Regions from separate parts of the Homo sapiens genome. Here region 1 is linked to region 2. The links come from fine-mapping of genetic effects on gene expression. A gene starts in region 2. The other region holds a variant in brackets. All regions are shown on one strand. Distances are from middle to middle. Region 1 overlaps LINC01088 (long intergenic non-protein coding RNA 1088). Region 2 holds the start of LINC01088 (long intergenic non-protein coding RNA 1088).

What was found. PIP is the estimated chance that this variant, and not a neighbour inherited with it, causes the effect.
Region 1: its variant is fine-mapped to the expression of LINC01088 in blood mononuclear cells (TOPMed, PIP 0.91).

Annotation. Positions count from the first base shown.
Region 1 is chr4:79,216,211-79,220,621 of GRCh38, forward strand. The region is part of intron 4 of LINC01088 (long intergenic non-protein coding RNA 1088); the gene reads left to right. It also overlaps a transcript of NAA11 not described here. Among named protein-coding and RNA genes, the nearest start is that of NAA11, 110 kb to the right of the region's middle. The variant C/T (reference allele first, on the strand shown) is at 2,443.
Region 2 is chr4:78,969,136-78,973,546 of GRCh38, forward strand. LINC01088 (long intergenic non-protein coding RNA 1088) reads left to right here and starts at 2,613. Exons shown (of 6, transcript NR_038342.1): 1 at 2,613-2,741; 2 at 3,865-3,917.

The DNA of each region.
Region 1 (4,411 bases), 250 kb after region 2:
TATGAGTAATAATGAAGAAAATAAAACCATCCAGAGTCCCATTTTCTAGAATATCTGTTAATATTATTATAGTTTATTTATTTGCACATTTTTCCTGAGCTTGCTTTTGTATGTTTGAGATCATAGTATATCTCCTTTACTCATTTAATATTATACTATAAGCCTGTGACCCAGAACATCTCTTACATTATTTTTAAAAGTCAATACATTTTGAAAGATTTCTTTTTGGTGGGTAGAGTCAAAGTTTATTTTTTAATTAAGACTATCAATTAGCAAAACTCTCTTCTTTAATAAATTCATCAAATGACTGAAATGGTATTATATACACTTGATATTTGTAGAGGAGGGCTGAGTGACATTTTTGGATGTCTTAGGCTGAATTTCCCAAAAAGTATCTTAAATAATATTATATTTTCTAGATTTATTCTTTGAAATGACATCACTAATCATTTAAAAGAATAGTCTATTATATTGACAGCAAATAAAAAGAAAATCTATGTTCACTGTCACTAGTTTGTTGACCACCTCTTGTGTTTCTTACCAGAACTTGACTTCATGAGCTTCCTATTCACCTAAGGAGTGGTGGATGGCTGGTAAAATTGAGTATATGCCCAAGCCAGTATTGATGGAATAAAAATGGCTTCAATACAAGGCCTCTATTAACATGTATTCTGTTTTCCTCACAAATTTATGGAATTTTTCCACCAAACATATGCATATCTGAAATTCAAATTGAGTGCACCTTACCTCATGCTCTCCTCCGTACCTCTAATGAGGTGGAAAAATGTACATTAATGACAGAAAGTTATTTAGTGCTGAACAGAGTTAATTGCTTCTAATCACTGCTTACATCCATGTGGTTTTATGGTAGACAACAAACCTCTTCATTGGGTTTGCTCATTAGACATATTGTAAATCACAGAGATGCACTGGCATCTTGCATATTGTGCTTCTATTAGTGAGGCAGCATTTTCATATAGCCCCAGTGGCAGGCTTTGGGATGCAGATCAACTTGTCTGTGTTCTGTTAGAACTGCAGGGAGTCCTGGTGAACTGGCCTCCTAGGCTCATTTGGAAGGCAATGGAAAGCTACTACCTATCAAACTCTAGATGAAAAGCTGTGAAAGAGCTGCCAGAGACTGGGATAGCAGATACCTTTGCCATGATTTTAGGTGGTAATATTGGTGACTATCTCATTTTCCCCCAAAAGCTTGGGGTTAAAACTTCCTTCTACTACTATTATTTGGCAGAGTAAATAGAAAAAGGATTGTATGAACAAAAAATCAAGGTTTAAAACAGAGGTAGATGCAATCTTTAATCTTGTGTCTAACACTAATAGCTTCTTAAATTGTAAAGAGTCAAGCAATGTTTTATCAGAATTTTGGGAAGATCAAAGGAAAAATATAAGCACATGAATTATTATAGTGAATAGCTTTATCATACCAAAATTACACTTGAGCTAAACTAATTAAGATGCTGTGGTGTAACTGTGCCATTAGCTGATATCAGTTGATGATAAAAGATTTAGAAAATTCATATGGGAAGTAAGACCTGCAAATTTTGTGACAATGTAGAACATTTGACAGGATATTATAATTACCATAATATCTTACATTGTAGGTAATTTTATCAGTTAAACAAGAAATAATCCCTAAATCTTAAAAGAGAGAAGAGGAAGAAACAAAGGGAGGGAAGGAAGAGAGAAGGAAGGAAGAAATAATACATGTGTAGAAGTGTCTGATATTACTTTTCCTTTTTTGGTGCTTGCCTAATTCCTTCCCATTAAGGTAAATGACTTTAGAGGGAGGTAACTAAGTCATGAAGGGTGCAGAATTTAAAACTGAATAGTAACCTAGGGATTATCTGGTAATATATACTCTCCTCATTTCATAAATGACATAACTGAGGCCCAGAAAGATTGAGTTGTCAAAGATAGGTCAAACAGTTACTTTCATGGCAGCAGTGGGGTAAGAGAATACAGATCAGTATCATGTGTCCTCACTCAGCTAGACATCCATTAATTTGTAATCAAAATTAACAATATAACTTAAACATGTATGTAATGTGCTCCCCACCTTCATATTCCCCATTTTTGTACTTTATTTAGGAAAGAAGGAAGTGACAAATAAGTTAGTTTTTTTTTTTTGGTTGGAAAAACAATTTAGACAACATAGTCTATGGTGACTATATATTTAGCTGTATTTTTACATATACAACTCCATAAAATACTAAAAAGCTTTCTGAGTCATTAAAGGTTTGTGAATTTTGAAGTACATTTAGGTCTAATTTAAAACCTAATAAAACCAAGAGTTATTAAAATTGATAACTCACATCTGTCATATATGATAACTATTAGTCCAAATACTTTATTACCTATCAGGAGTATAAAAGTGAAATTTCACCATAGTTCAATTTTTTGGAGTAATTATCCCAACCTCAATTC[C/T]GCTATTTTTTAATATTTTAATGTCTAGATTGAAATGGATTTCTATGTCTTCTTTGCTTCTTCTGTTACCTTTACAATTGAGGTGTAATTGAATAAAATCAACCTGATTTCAAATTACTTTGGAAAGATTTTCAACATAGCTACAATCTTGGTCTCAGGATTTTGCTTAGATTCTTTAAGGATCAAGAGATGTATATGCTGAATTCAATTCATATCAATGGTCTTCTTTTAATTCTGTACTACCATGCAAAATTTTTGCACTTTAGCAAAATATTCAGAGATGTTCACTTTTATTACACCTTTTTTGTTGAAAAATATTCACAGTATATACATATATAATACATGATATATAACATATATACACATGTAAATATAGAATTAAATCATTAAGAAACATATTTATAAATGGGTTATGCCCTTTTACTTTTTTAAGTCCCTACAATATTTTCTTTATAATCTGATTTGATTTGACTTTAAATTGAAACAAGATTTTAAAAACTGTTTTGGAAGTGTTTTTTCTCTCCTTCCACATCTTTAGCATTCAATATGAGTGGAAGGCCAATATGAGCTTGGTCGATTGGATGAGGGTTAAATGAAGAGTAGTCATTATTTCCATTGCTTTAATTATGCCATCCTCACCATGATGGACCTTGCTCCATTTCCCTCCAGTAGACCTGACAGACTATAACTGACCTAATTGATACCAGATGACAGCTCAAATAAGGCCTAATAAAGAAGTAATCACACTGATCTAATGAGCAAGCTGTTATGATATTGGCTTATAGAAAGCTGTTTTTTAATCCCTCCATTTTTCTTTTATTATCCGTAACCACTATTCTCAATCTCCTTTTCTGTGATTCTAGAATCGAAGGACTAAAATGGACCTTAGGGGAAACATAAGCTTGATTTCCTGTTATTTGTGCTATATGATATGCATTGACATTTTTTTCAACTCTTAAATATAGAAATGCCAAACAAACTGAAAAGTTGAAAGACTAATACAATGATCACATATATACCTCCATTTCACATTCAGTCATTATAAATATTTTGCTATATTACTTTGTATTTATATGTATATATACATTTTTTCTGAACCATTTGGAAGTAAGTCACATGTATCACAACACTTCATCCCTGAATGAATATTTTCAACATATATTCCTTTAAAATAAACCATTCTCCTACATAAGCATAATAGTAGCAGCAAATTAACGATAATATCTGGTCTATGTTCAAGTTTCTCCAACTGTCCCCAAATATCAAACCATATCCAACCAATATTTCATTAGTTTTTGAGCCTTGCTTTGCTTTCTAACATAATAAACTATTTTGAGCTCACCTTGTACTTTCTTGTCCTATGTGCGAAGTCAGCCATTGTCCCAAGAAGCCTAGGAGTAAGATCTGGGCTAGCATGCTCACTGCTACAAGACTGTCATTACTTCTGTGACTTTTTTTGAGACGGAGTCTCATTCTATCACCCAGACTGGAATGCAGTGGCACGATCTCGGCTCACTGTAACCTCCGCTTCCTGGGTTCAAGTGATTCTCCTGCCTCAGCCTCCCTAGTAGCCAAGATTACAGGCAGGCGCCACTACGCCCGGCTAATTTTTGTATTTTTAGTAGAGACGGCGTTTCGCCATATTGGCCAGGCTGATCTGGAGGTCCTGACCCCAAGTGATCCACCCGCCTTGGCCTCCCAAAGTGCTGGGATTACAGACATGAGCCACTGTGCTGGGCTTTCTGTGACTTTTCAATGGAATAGGTTTGTGTGCGTGTGTGTGTCTGTGTGTGTGTGTGTGTGTGTGTGTGTGTGTGTTGAATTTCTATGAATAGTTACATTTCAAATGTAATATAGGATTTTCTTAACTTTTAAGATATATATAAATAATATATGTGATTATATATAATCTTTATGCTGAATGTCTGAAAGTCTTGGTACCTAATAGTATTAATTTGTTTAATTGCAT
Region 2 (4,411 bases):
TTTAAAGTTGCTATTGTTTCTTGCCACTGAGCTAAAAAATAGTTGCTGTTGACTATTTTAGGTTCTTTGCATTTTCATATGTGTTTTGTCAATTTCTACAAAAGTCCTCCTGGGATTTTGATTGGAATTTGCTGGAATCTGTAGAATAATTTGGGAAGAAATGACATCTTTAAAATATTGAGTAATATTTTATATATTACTGGCTAATTAATATATCTATTTATTTTGTTTTTTCTTTATTTTTTCTCAACAATGTTTTAAGATTTCTGTTTATAGGTTTTCCACATCTTTTATGTACATTATCCCTATTTTATATATTTTTATGTTATCATTAGCGACATTTAAAACATTCAATTTCCAATAACTTGTTGCTAGTATATAGAAATTCAGTTGATTTTATATGCCAATCTTGTATCCCGAAATCTTGCTAAGCTTACTTATTAGTACAAGTAGCTTTGATTCTCGATTCCATCACATTTCTATACAAATGATCATATTGTCTGTGAATAAAGACAGTTTTATTTCTTCTTTTCTGATTTCTGTGCTTATTTATTTTTCTTTTCTTTTTTTATTGTACTAGCTGAAACTTCCAGGACAAAGTTGAATAGAAGTGTTGAGAGTAAAAATTCTTGTCTTGTTCTGGTCTTTTATCTTTCAGTATAATACATTTTCATAGGTGCTTTTTTTTGGTTGAGAAAATTCTCTTCAGTTTCTTTTTCACTGAGTCGTTTTATGAGGAATGGATGTTGGATTTTGCCAAATGGTTTGTTGTGCCTATTTTATGTGCCTATTATGTACATGTTGAATAATTTCTTTTTTCTTTTTTTTTTTTTTTTGAGACGGAGTCTCGTTCTGTCACCCAGGCTGGAGTGCAGTGGCATTATCTAGGCTCACTGCACACTCCACCTCCTGGGTTCATGCCATTCTCCTGCCTCAGCCTCCCGAGTAGCTGGGACTACAGGCGCCTGCCACCAGGCCTGGCTAATTTTTTGTATTTTTAGTAGAGATGGGGTTTCACCATGTTAGCCAGGATGGTCTCGAAATCCTGACCTTGTGATCCGCCTGCCTCAGCCTCCCAAAGTGCTGGGATTACAGGCGTGAGCCACCGCGCCCGGCCCTGAAGAATTTCTTTTAGCATTTCTTGTGTAGGTCTCCTGGAAAAAAAATCTGATTTGGGGAGAAGGGTATGAAAATGTCTTTATTTTTCATTTTTGTAGGATATAGGACTATGCTACAATTTTATGTAGAATCTATTTAGAATCCTATACAGAATTCCAGACTAACATGTTTCACTTTCAGCTCTTTAAAGATGTCATTCCATTGTTTTGGAGTAATTGTTTCTGAAGAGAAATTAGACATAATTTTTATCATTTTTTTCTTCCGTGTAATGTTTCTTTTTTCTCTGACTGCTTTTAAGATTTTTGTATCATCTTTGGCTATCAACAGAGTGAGTATGGTGTGCCTAGTTCTGTTTTTGTGTTTATCCTCTTTTGGGGTTACTATGATTCCTGATGCTGAGGTTTGATATTTTTAATCAATTTTGAGAAATTCTTGGCCATTATGTTTTCAAGGATTTCTTCTGACTCATTTTCTATCTCTCACAGATGCAATTACATATTTACTAGGCTACTTAATATTGTCCTAGAGATCATAGACTCAAGTTTTTCACTCATTCCCCCTTTTATTTATTTATTTATTTTTGGATAATTGACCTGTCCTCAGGTTTACTTCTGCTTTTTGCTGCTGCTAATAGGCTACTGTTGTGTTTTATGGCCTGTTAGACTCCTAATATGTATTCTCTTTTGATGACAGTGTATTTTAAAAACAAATTTTGACATTGCAGTTTGGTTTCTTTTCATACTTTTCATTACTCTGCTGAAATTCTCTATATATTCATGCATGCTCTCTACCTTTTCCACTGAATTATTTGACATATTTATCATAGTTATGCTGAAGTTACTCCCTGATAAATCTAACGTCTGTGCTTTCTAGAGTCTCAGCCTGTTGACTGTTTTCTCATTTGATTATTGCTCACATTTTTTCTCTTTGTGGGTCTCAAAATTTTTTACTCTATGTTGGATATTGTGAGAAAAATAGTAGAGATTGAGAAAATTAATATTTATTTACCCTAAAAAAGTGCATACTTTTTTTGTTAGACCTTTTCTTGGGAAAGTTGAGGAAATCTGTTGTATATTTGAGGTATGTGGGATTATTTCAGCTTTAGTTGGATTAGTTTACCACTGACTTCAAATGTTTTGAAAACAGAATAAGGTCTTTTCTATCACTAGGGCTTGTGATCTGAGCACTGGCAAGATTTCAGAGATCTCTGTGTGCTCCCAGACTGTTTTGGTTGCTAGGGAGTTCTTTTTCCTTTCCTGTTTCTGACTTTATTAATCTCAGGAGGTCTCTCTTCTTTTTGCTCTGCTGCTTCAAGCCTTTGGCATCCAGTGCCTTGTACTTAATGAAAGTTTGCAACACTCTGAGCAACTGTTCTCAGTTCTTCTGCCTTATTTCTGGCCTCCGTTGCAACTGTTTTGACCTAGTGAAGGCCTAGACTTTCTCAGACAGATTTCTTTTAACTCTTCTGCCCTGACTCCAGTCTTCACTGGGATGCTGCCTTGCACTTAGGGAAGGTTCACATGCCTCAAGGATCTCTCTCTCTCAGATTTCTTGACTTTCCCTCAGTCTTCAGTATAGTCCTCCTCTGTGCCTGGTGAAGACCTGTGGTAAAGTGCTGGCAGGTGAGTACAGCTTGATGGTGTGGATGGGTTCCTTGGGACTCCAGCATGTCAAGCTAGTTCACACACAGGTCTTAATAGTTGTCTAAGATTCATGTAGTTCCTCATTTTCTTTTCTGTGGTAGATTCTGTTTCCTGCTGCACCACCAGGGATGAAAAAATTCACTGGTCTCTTCTTTTATAGAACGGGATCATAACTATACAGATTTTAGTTAAGTTAGCTTTATTAGTATTCTCAGCTTTTTTAATGGGATAAAAAGCAATGATATTATGGATTATCTGACTTTTCCTTTAGTATTAGGTTTGCCCAATCATCTCCATGATTTCTAAATTCCAAACTTCTTGAATAAATAAAATTTAAAAGAAAACATTGTACTAAAGTCAAAAGAAGGGTTTTAAGGCATAGTTCTACTTTTTACTGTCCATGTATCCTTGGATAAACTACTTCTCTGAAATTGTATTGCTTGCTTTTTCAGCTTGTTGAGTCTTTCATAAATTTAAGGGTTGGAATATGTCTCTCAGACAGAAATTGATAGAGCTTTGCAAGTCTTCAGATGTATTCAAGTTTGGTAAACACTGGGTTAGGCCATGGATAAAAGATTGGTCTTTGTGTGTTCATAAGAAAACCTGGATAGGAAGCTCTTCTTCTTACAGAAAGCCTCGATTGAGAAGTAAAGCTGGGACTATTAGTCCGTGTTCTGCAGTGAAATAATGGTAGCCATGCATAGATTGATTTAAGATCTATGCATGTTAAGATACCTGTCTTAACACAGGTAATAGTCACATCAGGGAAAAGAGCAACAGGCAGAACTCTTGGCTTTGTGTAAGAGCCCAAGGAAAGGGCCTGAGAGAGTACACACTGTATCAAAGTGTAGTGTTAATGTGAGGTGTCGGGAAAAAGGTCTTGGGTGTGTGTGTGTCTGCATAATATATGTGTGGAAAACTCTCAGTGCTGGTCCTTTGAGATATGTCTGTGAAAACTCTTTCAATTAACAAAAATAACCAACATTAATTGAATACTTTTTATGTGCCAGTCACTGTTCCAAGTTCTCTACAAAAGGTAATTCTTTAGTCCTTATAGTAATACTGTAGTGGTGCTGATACTATTTTTATCTTCATTTTTCAGAGAGGAAGCTAAATCACGTAAAAATTAAGAAACAGCTCAGCGTTTCACAGCTAGTAAGTAACAGAGATGGGCTTGAGACCCAGATTGGCAGGATCCAGGTCTTGTGCTCATGACGACTCTGCTATGGTGCCTCCCTTGAAAGCATCTTAGTGCTTTCATTGTTGTTTTTGTTATTGTTATTCTTACTATTATTTTGTACCCCCTTGGTGGATAGTGGCTGTGAATTTGTAGTTGTTGGTGTGTTTCTTCTGGAGCGTAAGCTCCTTCCTCCTCTATTGTTAGCCAGAGTTTTTGTTACCTTTGAAATAATTGCTAAATCAACAAAACATCTGTTACATTGCTGCTGCTCGAATGGCTATCTTTTAGAATTAGCACTCTTCTTTCTGAATCTGATGCCACAGCCTTTTGAACTTAAGGTATTTGGATGTGTCAGTAAAGGGGCTGTGGTAGCTGTGGTGACAGCAACTCCAATGGTGGTGACCGTAGAGAATGTGGCAGAGCTGTGAATGAGATGAAGAGATTTAGTGATGGCAGAGGAAACTTTGGG